Linked DNA regions of Homo sapiens: region 2 is linked to region 1. The links come from fine-mapping of genetic effects on gene expression. A gene starts in region 1. The other region holds a variant in brackets. All regions are shown on one strand. Distances are between the middles of the regions.

Region 1 (5,373 bases):
AGACGGGGTTTTGCCATGTTGGCCAGGCTGGTCTCGAACTCCTGGCCAATCTGCCCGCCTTGGCCTCCCAAAGTGCTGGGATTACAGGCATAAGCCACCATGCCAGGCCCCTTTCATCATCTTTCAGGGCAGGGCTTGTCACTCCCTATTCCACCTTGAAAATACCTCTTGTGCCCAGGCTGTTGGGTTCCAGTCTCCAAATTTTTTTTTTTTTTTTTTTGAGAGAGGGTCTCACTCTGTCACCCAGGCTGGAGTGCAGTGGCGTGATCGCGGCTCACTGCGACCTCTGCCTCCTGGGTTCAAGTGATTCTCCCGCCTCAGCCTCCCAAGTAGCTAGTATTACAGGTGCGCACCACCACACCCAGCTAATTTTTGTATTTTTAGTAGAGATGGGGTTTCACCATGTTGGCCAGGCTGGTCTCGAACTCCTGACCTTAGGTGATCCACCCGCCTCAGCCTCCCAAAGTGTTGGGATTACAGGCGTGGCCAATAAGCCCAGCCCCGATTTTTTTTTTTTTTTTTTTTTTAATACAGGTTCTCGCTCTGTTGCCCAGGCTGTACTGCTGCAGTGGCGTGATCATAGCTCACTGTAACCATGAACTCTCGGGCTCAAATGATCCTCTTGTCTCAGCCTCCTGAGCAGCTAGGACTACAGGCACATGCCACCATGCACAGCTACTTTTTTTTTTTTTTTTTGTAGGGATGGGGTTTCACTGTGTTGTCTAGGCTGGTCTTGAACTCCTCCCACCTTAGTGTCCCAAAGTGTTGGGATTACAGGCGTGAGCCGCCGAGCCTGGCTAGTCTCTGAACCTAACCAACACTCTCTGTTACGGCTCGAAGACATAAATATAGGACCTTTTCAGTCAAACAGAAGGGTGTTTCCAGTATGCTATACTGCCCCCAACAAATCTAAAACAAAGTACTGGCATTTAAGAACCAGCTAAGAGAAATGCACAGGGACTGTGGAGGCAATGCTATTACCTCAGTCTGGTATTTGAAAAGGATTCCTTTTTTAGTCTACCCCCTCCCAAAGACCTTCCAGTTGTACCCTAGGGTCCCCTCTGTGTAAACCTTCAAGTGTTACATAAGATACTTGGAATGTCACTGAAGGATGCCACTTTTAGGCTCTATAAAAATCACCATTAACAATTTGGGAAGAAGCAAAGCTCTGTTGAACATCCAGTTATTGGCTGGTCTTCCTCACCAGAGGCATGAGGGATCCCTGTTGTCCCAGGGGCAGCCATCGACATCCCGACAAATGCCAGAGTACATCTCTCCCCAGGCAGCGATGACTCCATGGCGGTCTCATCCCTCACTACACTTTTCCTAGTGCTGGCATGGTAAAAGGCAATTAACTATAAATTAAACGGAAACTCAGTGTAGCAACTTCCATTTTGTTACAAGACTAGGAAACAAAACTTGTCTCTGATTTTCTTTTTAAGAAGACTTTTAAGTGTGACTGCGCGCGGTGGCTCATGCCTGTAATCCCAGCACTTCGGGAGGCCGAGGAGGGCGTATTACTTGAGGTCAGGAGTTCGAGACCAGCCTGGCCAACATGGTGAAACCCCGTCTCTACTAAAAATAAAAAAATTAGTCGGGCTACTCGGGAGGCTGAGGCAGGAGAATCGCTTGAACCCGGGAGGCGGAGGCTGCAGTGAGCTGAGATCGTGCCATTGCACTCCAGCCTGGGCGACAGAGCGAGACCGTCTCAAAGGCTTATGGGTTTCTGATCAAGTCATCTTAGCGACTGAAAGGGCTTCAGAGAAATCTGAACTTAAGTGCAAACAAAACAAAACAAACTCCAAAACAAAAAACAACCAACCATCAGACTTTAATCTCTATAGGGACAGAGCAATTTTCCTCAAACTTTTGCTCAGCAGAACACATCTGAAACTGGCCCCCTATGTGCTACGCATCCAGAAGAGGAAAAGCCGGATCTGAAAACAATATTCCACGCTAAATGGGCCGTCCCGGCCGGGGCAGGCGGTCCCAGCACCCGTGCTGAGCTCCCCGGCATACGGCACGACGGGGCCGCGCCGGCTCTTCGGCGACAGCAAGGCCGGCATCTAACTCCACACCGTCCGCGCTTGCACCGCGCACCCAGGCTTCGTACCCAGCTCCCAGGTGGGGACCGCGCCCCCGCGGCGCCCGCGCCCCGCGCCCCGCGCCCCGCTCCCCACTCCGGCCCTGGGCCGGCGCCGCAGCGGCCCGGAAGGTACCTGCTTAGAGGGAAGGGCCCCGACTGGCGCTGCCGCGGCCCCGGTGGAGAGGGCGGCTGGGTCGGAGCGGTGCCGCGGCCCGGGGAGGCGGCCAGGCGGCGCCTCAGCACCCGGACCCCAGGGGCGTGCGGGACCCGGCTCTCGTGGACTTCCTCGGCAGCCGCCGCTTCCTCAGACGGAACTCGGGGGGCGCCCCTTCCGCCGCCCCAGGCCGCCTTGCACCCCAAGCTGCTGCGGCAGTGACAGGGAAGAAGCAGACCCGGCCACCTCTGCCCATAGCCCCGGCCGCAGCCTCCACTCTCATGACAACCAAGCCCAGCCCTGGGCCAGGGCCTCTGCGCGTGCGCGACCCCGCCCCACCCCAGGCCGCGCCTGCGCACAAGGGGAGGGCTCCGCTACTCTGGCCCTCAGGGTTGTGTAGTTTCCGGGGCCACGGCACCTGGGCACACCAGGTGGCGTCGCGCCTTTGCTTTCCTGAGCCTTCTGAGTAAGGTAATGTGGTGTCCGTGGGGCGACGCCTGCGCACAAGACCGCGTCGGGCCTCACTTTTCCCAGGCCTTCTGGGTAATGTAGTTTCCGGGATCGGCACCCGGCCTGTGCCAGCTTGCAGAGCTCACCAGGTGCAGACCCCTGCGGCCAGGGCGAGGACGGATCTGAGCAGCTGGGCAGCAGGTGCCACCGCCTGTGGGACCCAGAGGGCTTGAGGACATCTGCAATGCTCCAGAAGCCCAAGAGCGTGAAGCTGCGGGCCCTGCGCAGCCCGAGGAAGTTCGGCGTGGCTGGCCGGAGCTGCCAGGAGGTGCTGCGCAAGGGCTGTCTCCGCTTCCAGGTGCCCGCTGGGCTAGGCGGGGACGGCCCGTCGGGGAGGCGTGTGGGGAGAATAGGAGGTGCCGCTTTTCCTCTTCCAAAACGGAGGGTGCAGGCGGCGCCCGGGGCGGGTAGTTTTCGTTCGCCTCAGCCGCTAGGACCCCGGGCCCCCGCAGCCTGGGGTTCCTGAGCGTGGCTTCAGAACGCAGGGGGGTTGGGGGACGACCTGGATCACCCCTTCCCTCTTCCCACCTCTCGGGCAGGACAGCCCTGCATCAGAGCTAGGAGACCCGGGTAGAGTGCCAGGTACTGGCACGCGGGGTCACGGCTGCTCTGCCTGTCCGGCCTCAGCTTCCCCTTGAGTAACATGAAAGGCTTGGCTAGGTGGGCTCTGCAGGCCCCTTCCAGCCCTCGCAGCTGGGGATTGCAATCGTCACCTTATTCTAGGTTGGTTTTCTTTTTAGACCAGTACTAGGGTTACCAGGTGTGCATTGCCGGGGTCGGTGCGGGTGGGGTGGGAGTAGCCATAAAATGCCTAAAACTGACCAGTGCAGAGTAACAGGGAACCGGACTCCAACAAATTAACAGTGCCACGTGCCGGTCACACTTGTGCACAGAGGCAACCAACCGTTCTCCTTCGTGTGCCAGCACCGCTCTGGCGGCTGTGTGCTGGGGATGGTGGTGTTCAGCTCCTGGCAGCAGGGAGGCGGCGCTGTCAAAGACAGGCTCTATTTGAAGCGCCCTCAGGAGCTCATTTAAAAAGGGTGAATCCTGCAGAGCCAGCAGTCACCCCCTGATGTATGTTTTTCCTGACTCTTCGTATTTTAGAACGGCCCGCAGTCAGGCGCCCTTGCTCCCGCTCCCTCATCCTTGCCTGGGCGTTGGAGCGACTGTGGCATACAGGCGGCAGCCTGAGCCTGCTTCTTTAAGCACAGCTCATTCCGGTCGTTTGTGAGGCCTGCAGATGCAAAGCCCTCGTCTTGAGACCCTTCCTCCTCCTGTTGCTTCTCCCGTCCCTGCAGCTCCCTGAGCGCGGTTCCCGGCTGTGCCTGTACGAGGATGGCACGGAGCTGACGGAAGATTACTTCCCCAGTGTTCCCGACAACGCCGAGCTGGTGCTGCTCACCTTGGGCCAGGCCTGGCAGGGCTGTGAGTGGCAAGGACTTTGGAGGTGGGCGGGAAGCTGGCACTCTCCGAGGTCCTGGGGGCTTAGCTCCAGGTGCCCATCAGGGTGGGGAAGAGTCCCCCTTACTGTGAACTCTCGGGTCTCAAGGAGGAAGCCCTCTGGAGGCAGAACTGGTCAGCGTCGCTTAGGTGGCAGAGTCCTCAGTCCTCTCGTTCATGAACCCAGCTGTTCAATTGGTCGTCTTTTTCTTCAAAAAATCTTTTAATTTTATTTGCGTTCATTTGAGGTGTCCTAGCAATTCCCAAGAGCAGAGGGAGGGCTTTGGGGTTGGGGCCTGCACAGTTTCATGGGGAAGGTGGAGCCAGGAAGAGATGCTGTTCTGTTCTGCTGGGCTGAGCACCCTTCTGGAAGGACGAGGTGGTGGTTCGTGGGATGCTCTCACATTGTTCTCGGTTGGTGTTTGCTAAGATGCTGTCCTCAGGGCTCAAGTTTGGGGGCAATTGCTTTGAGAGGTGGTTCTTTCGGGGCATCTGTATTGAAGCCTCAGGACACAAAGTCCTGCCTTTCAGAACCAGCCGAATGCCAAGGTCTGCGCTTGTTTGACTCCCGTAAAAGAGAGCTTTTGGCCACTGGGGCAGGAGATGCCATCATGTGCCTTTACCTGGGAGGGTCGGCCAGTGTTGTGCAAATGGGGTCAGGCTCCAGGAGATGCTTCTGGCAGCCCAGGAAGGACATGGGTGCTCTGAGGGATGGAGCTGTGGCTCCTTGGCCTAAGGGGCAAAAAGAGAGAAGTCGAAGAGTAACATCCATGTGGCCACCTCCCCGGCTACAGTGTTGGGGGCTCCACTGTCAGCATTGAGGGGTGACGCCTCTGGTGTGTGCTCCAAGGTTGCAAACCCCCTTTCTCCACTGGGCCTTGTGCTTTTAGAGGAGGCAGCTGGAAAATGTATCACTGTGATGCCCCCTGGGGTGGCCCCTGCAGGAGGTGGGGGCTGGGCAGGGGTATGCTCAGGGTATGCCTCACCTTTGGATGTTATCTTTCTTTCCCATTTCAGGGCATAGTTGAAAGACAGCAGAGCACGTTGCTCTCTCTCTGTCTCTCCCTGCATCTCGCAGTCTCTGTCTCTCTCCTCTGTCTCTGTCTCTGGCTCTCTCTGTCTGTCTCTGTCTCTCTCTCTCTCTGTCCTTCCTTTCTCTGGCGCTTTATCCTCCTCTCTTCGC
Region 2 (5,373 bases), 26 kb before region 1:
GGTGGAAATGTCACGGTGACTTTTTGCCATAGGAAGTTCAGCCTATATTCAGCCACATTTGATCTTTTTTCCCCATTCGTACCCATTTCTTCTTTTAAAAATCTGTGGTAAGAACACTTGACATGAGCTCTGCCCTCTGAATAGCTCTGCGTGCACTGTGCAGCCACGTGGGCTGCAGGCCTGAGGTGCCAGCAGGTCCCAGAACTCATTCACCTGGCACGGCTGAAAACTCAGGTCTGCGGAACGGAAACTCCCTGTGTTCTGCCACCTTTATATCTTTTTTTTAAGGAAATTTTCTTTCAACTGAAGGAAACTTCATCATAAAATTAGTGTTATGAAGCTAATTCATATCCCAGAAGCTGGGAGGCTGAAGAGGAACACATTTATATTCAACCAAATAGTATTTGTTCCCAGTACATATGACACCCCCACAGGCTTAGAGTAAGGGCTCATAGAAACAGAATGTTTACCTGAAACCTTCCCTTTTTAATGCGCTGAAGTCAGACCTTTATAGTCAAGCTGATTTTTCTCCTTTGCCTCTGAAGGTGGCTGGAGAGCTGTGGAGGAGAGCAGCTCTGGGCCCACAGCCCCTGGTCCCTCCCTAAACCTCAGCAGCAGCTCACATCAATTCTGACAGAGGATGGAGGGGCAGGAAGAGTATCTGCCACCCAATTCCACCTCTCCATGGAGGGCTTCTGTCATCCACCCCAAAACTAACCTAAAAAACCAAAAGGAATCAAGACGCTCATTTGCATAATCCCATGAAAAATAAGTCAAGTATGATGTGGATCTATACAGCAAAATACATTTCAGCTAAAAGCACACAGGTGAAAGACGTGTTAACTTCCAACCTGAACTTCAGCCTGAATTTCTTTCAGTGCTGCCAGCTGCCCTTGTAAAGCTTTTATTTCTTCTTTCTTTTGTTTTTCTGCTTCTTCTGTAGCCGCTTTTCTCCGTGCCTGGTAAGAAAATTATTTTTCCATTAGAACAGCTTGTTAGGGTAATCTTAGAAACTGGGAGACAAATTATGGCATATCAACTATATTTCTTATAAATTATAATATTCACTAAGACTAATAACAAGTTAGAATAAGTCTTTTCCATTGATTTCATTGGTGTCTATTGATAGATAAACCCACTGTGTCCTCACGGCTATCGTTATTCCGTTTGCAGCCTGGGAACCTAAGGGTCTCACTGGCAGAAAGTGGAGCAGCCGGGATCTGAATGCGGGAACCTGTGTTCTTTCTTAGCCAGGACGCCGGGGCTTCCCATACATGTGGCTCCTTCAAATGACATATTTACTTATTTACGTACCGAGTAACTGAGTAACTTCTTCAACACAGGATGACATCACAACTTCACCAAAGTTAACTCACCCTCATCTCAGCATCTGTAGCTCTGCCATCTATTTTAGCAAATCCCTCAAAAATTGTTTTGTAGAGAATGTTCCTGCGTGTGTTGCTGTCGTCTGGAGGAAGGTACTCCAGGATGGAAGCCTGGTGCTGTCTGTACATGTCCAAAATAATTCGAACCGCCGTCTCGCGGACCTCATACACTCTATGCTCCAGGGCACTCACTGAAAACTAAAGTTGGGAGGGGCTCTTGTTACTCATTCTTAAAATAAAACTAATTTCTTCCAGCTTACAAAAAAGGTACATTATAAACATGTGAAAAATAAAAGAGAAAACATCCGTATTAAGTATTATGAAATACTTCAAACATAAAACCTCACGGATCTACCGTCTCATCGTAAGCCGTGTTATACTTTCATCACGCTTGTTTTGGATCTTTTTTAAGAAACAGAACGCTGTGGCTATAGTGCAATTTCATCCCTGCTGTGCGTCTCGGGGGCCCACAGTTTCTCATCCTCCTTGGAGGTGTGCGCTCCTGCGTAGCCGATGTGCAGATTTCAGGTTTTTGGATTTGGGATCCAAACCAGTAAGTATAATGGAAGTATTCCAGAATCCGAAAACAATCTGAAATCCTAAACACTTCTGGTCTTAAGCATTCCAGATAAGGGGCTTCAACCTGTACCTGATATTCTCCATCACACTGCTGTTATTGTCTCTTAAAGACAGGCCGGGCGCAGTGGCTCACGCCTGTAATCCCAGCACTTTGGGAGGCTGAGGCGGGCGGATCACGAGGTCAGGAGATCGAGACCATCCTGGCTAACACAGTGAAACCCCGTCTCTACTAAAATACACGAAAAAATTAGCCGGGCATGGTGGTGGGCATCCTGTAGTACCAGCTACTTGGGAGGCTGAGGCAGGAGAATGGCATGAACCCAGGAGGCAGGGCTTGCAGTGAGCCGAGATGGCACCACTGCACCTCCAGCCTGGGCGACAGAACGAGACTCCATCTCAAAAAAAAAAAAAAAAAAAGACAAAGAAATATTTTTTATGATTTGTTTCTCTCCACAGATAAAGATCTGCACACACCATGCACCACCGAGTAGGATTAGACAGCAGGACGCATGTGGGGGCCCCCATTTGTTGGATGAAACACTGGCTATTTTTCTGAAATCACTGCCTCAGTCATTCCTTCAACAAATGCCGATGAGACCCTCGCCACGCTCCAGGCACTGTGGTGAGTGCTGGGCCGCGTGGTGTGTCACACGCGAGGTCTGCTTACCTTCATCACGTTGTCAATGGTGAAGCCCGAGCTGCCAGTGCCCAGGTCTTTCAGCAGCCGGGCCAGGAGGCCCATCTGACTCATTGCCAGGTGAACTGAAGAGTTTGCTTTCAATGGCTGCACCAGGTAGGATGGAATAATTTGGAGAGACTTAACTTCTTTAAACAAGGCCATTTCCTATGAAAGCCAAGGTAATTTGTTAATTTTTACTGGAAAATGCTGGAGGCAGTTTAGTACAATTCAGCATGATCTTAAACTAAACACTGAAGGGAAAAACAGGGAAATACAGATTGATAGTGACAAGGAGCAATGAGAGCACTGATCCGTAAGCTTGTATTTCTATTTAAAGCGTAACAACCATTAGAAATGAAAATCTGAGCCACAGGAAATAAAATCATGAAGAATAAAACGATTTTATGTCTACTGAAAGCTTTTCAGAAGCGTAATTGAAAACTTGAAGGTTTCTGTTCTCAGT[A/G]TTCTCAGCTTCAAGGAAAAGGTTTTCTCATTTCTAAAATTCTAAAAGAAATTAGAGCTGCTGCTAGAATCACCGTTATTTTAGTATTTATTAAATGTCAGCCAAGAGTGTATGATTCTGCAGTGATACGGTCACCAGTGGGTTAAGATGGAAAAAATGTAAGTACCATTACATATTTGAATGTCTCTAAACAAACAAGTCTTTACGTAATTAAGATATTTATCACTTAATTAACCGGATATAGAGAAAAAAATAAGATGTTGAATCATTAAGTTACAATCAGAAATAAACCTGTTTCCAATAGGTCTGCAGGTCTTATCACCTAAAATAATCTCTTATCGTGCTGGCCTGACTCACTCTGGATTTGGGCCTGTGAGTGACTCTGTACAAATCTAAAAGCTAAGAGAAGAAGAGCATTCTCCAGGGAAGTTTGGACAGTAAACTCCTTAACTACAAACAGATGCTGTTGAGTGTGTATTTCGTCCACTAACCGGCACACTGGTGCACAATTGTAACCCTCGATAGATTGCCTTAAGGTTGTCTCACATAGAGAGAACATTTGAGCACCACCAAACTGCTCAGAAATTAATGTGGCTTAAAAATAATTAAATGAAGCAATAACATGTGCTCATTTGCAACATATCTTTTGAAAGATGAACCCTCCTCACCCCCAAATTCTAGCTGTCATAACCAGGAGTGTATTGTAGCACATTAGGTCGTAACCAGGAGTGTATTGTAACCAGGAGTGTATTGTAACCAGGAGTGTATTGTAACCAGGAGTGTATTGTAGGTCGTAACCAGGAGTGTAGTGTAGGTCGTAACCAGGAGTGTAGTGTAGCACATTAGGTCGTAACCAGGAGTGTAGCGTAGGTCGTGACCAGGAGTGTAGCGTAGGTCCTGACCAGGAGTGTAGCGTAGGTCGTGACCAGGAGTGTAGCGTAGGTCGTGACCAGGAGTGTAGCGTAGGTCGTGACCAGGAGTGTAGTGTAGGTCGTGACCAGGAGTGTAGTGTAGGTCATAACCAGGAGTGTAGTGTAGCACATTAGCATGACAGCATTTCTTCTTACCTTTTTATTAGCATTCCTTTTCCTTATTTACTCTGAAAATTTAGGTTTATTAAATGAAACTAGATCTGTGGTTCCTCATATTTTGGAGAAATGACCCCTTTGGATTCTTCTTTTTGAGACACTGTCTTTCTCTGTCACCCAGGCTAGAGTACAGTGGCGAGATCACGGCTCACTGCAGCCTCAACCACCTGGGCTCAAGCCTCTCGCCTCGGCCTTCCAAGTAGCTGGGACTACAGGGGTGTATCAGCATGCCCGGCTAATTTTTGTATTTTTTGCAGAGATAGAGTCTCACTATGTTGGCCAGGCTGGTCTCAAACTCCTGGGCCCAAATGATCTGCCTGCCTTGGTCTCCCAAAGTGCTGGGATTATGGGCGTGAGCCACCCCGCCTGGCCTGGATTCTTTTTTTTTTTTTTTTAAGATGGAGTCTCACTCTGTTGCCAGGCTGGAGTGCAGTGGCGTGATCTCGGCTCACTGAAAACTCTGCCTCCCGGGTTCGATTCTCCTGCCTCAGCCTCCCAAGTAGCTGGGACGACAGGCACGCACCACCACACCCGGCTAATTTTTGGATTTTTAGTACAGAAGGGGTTTCACCAGGTTGGCTAGGATAGTCTCGATCTCCTAACCTTGTGATCCACCTGCCTGAGCCTCCCAAAGTGCTGGGATTACAGGTGTGAGCCACCGTGCCCAGTCTGGCCTGGATTCTTTTTTAAGAAGGATCTGCACATCACAAAATTTTGTGTAAAACTTAACGTAATTCATAAGCTTCTTAAGCCCAAAGGAGGACTCTTAAGAACTCCTAGACTAGATGAATTCATTAGCTAGTTTAAAGATTTTCAAATTATGGTGCATAACTGTGTGCCCCAAAACTCATACATTTATCTCTATCTCAATATTTCCCATAATATCTAGCCTAGAGGAGGCATATTTGGTGAAAGAATGAAAATATTTCTATTAAGACAGTTATATTTTTTATTTCTTTACCCTCAGATTTTCTCTTTTGATATCATTTTCTGTGTGTTTTTATTTATTTAAAAAATTAATGGCATATGTTGGATAAAAAAAACATTGGAAAAACCCAACTGTAGATTTTAACTGAAGTTTATGTCTAAGACAAAACTGACCTTTTAGAGCATAAGGAAAGTGTGATGGTGAATCCCTGAGAATAATGTTAACTGAGTAGAGACAGAATCTTGTAAAAG

Which allele goes with the higher level. Alleles are on the strand shown, and positions count from the first base shown. SD is a standard deviation of normalised expression in the study named.
In carriers of allele G in region 2, the expression in cerebellum of the gene that starts at base 2,542 in region 1 tends to be higher than with A alone (moderate effect, 0.43 SD a copy in GTEx).

What was found.
Region 2: its variant is fine-mapped to the expression of CEP104 in cerebellum (GTEx, PIP above 0.99). The same link has a PIP of 0.9 or more in transverse colon.

Annotation. Positions count from the first base shown.
Region 1 is chr1:3,854,670-3,860,042 of GRCh38, forward strand. It overlaps CEP104 (centrosomal protein 104), which reads right to left and starts at 2,542. Exons shown (of 22, transcript NM_014704.4): 1 at 2,220-2,542. DFFB (DNA fragmentation factor subunit beta) reads left to right here and starts at 2,807. Exons shown (of 7, transcript NM_004402.4): 1 at 2,807-3,048; 2 at 4,049-4,175. The coding sequence starts at 2,935. RefSeq lists silencers at 2,209-2,708, 3,639-3,688 and an enhancer at 2,849-3,028.
Region 2 is chr1:3,828,415-3,833,787 of GRCh38, forward strand. It overlaps CEP104 (centrosomal protein 104), which reads right to left. Exons shown (of 22, transcript NM_014704.4): 13 at 2,632-2,808; 14 at 1,377-1,583; 15 at 852-959. Among named protein-coding and RNA genes, the nearest start is that of CEP104, 26 kb to the right of the region's middle. RefSeq lists enhancers at 904-2,103, 2,187-3,386. The variant A/G (reference allele first, on the strand shown) is at 3,107.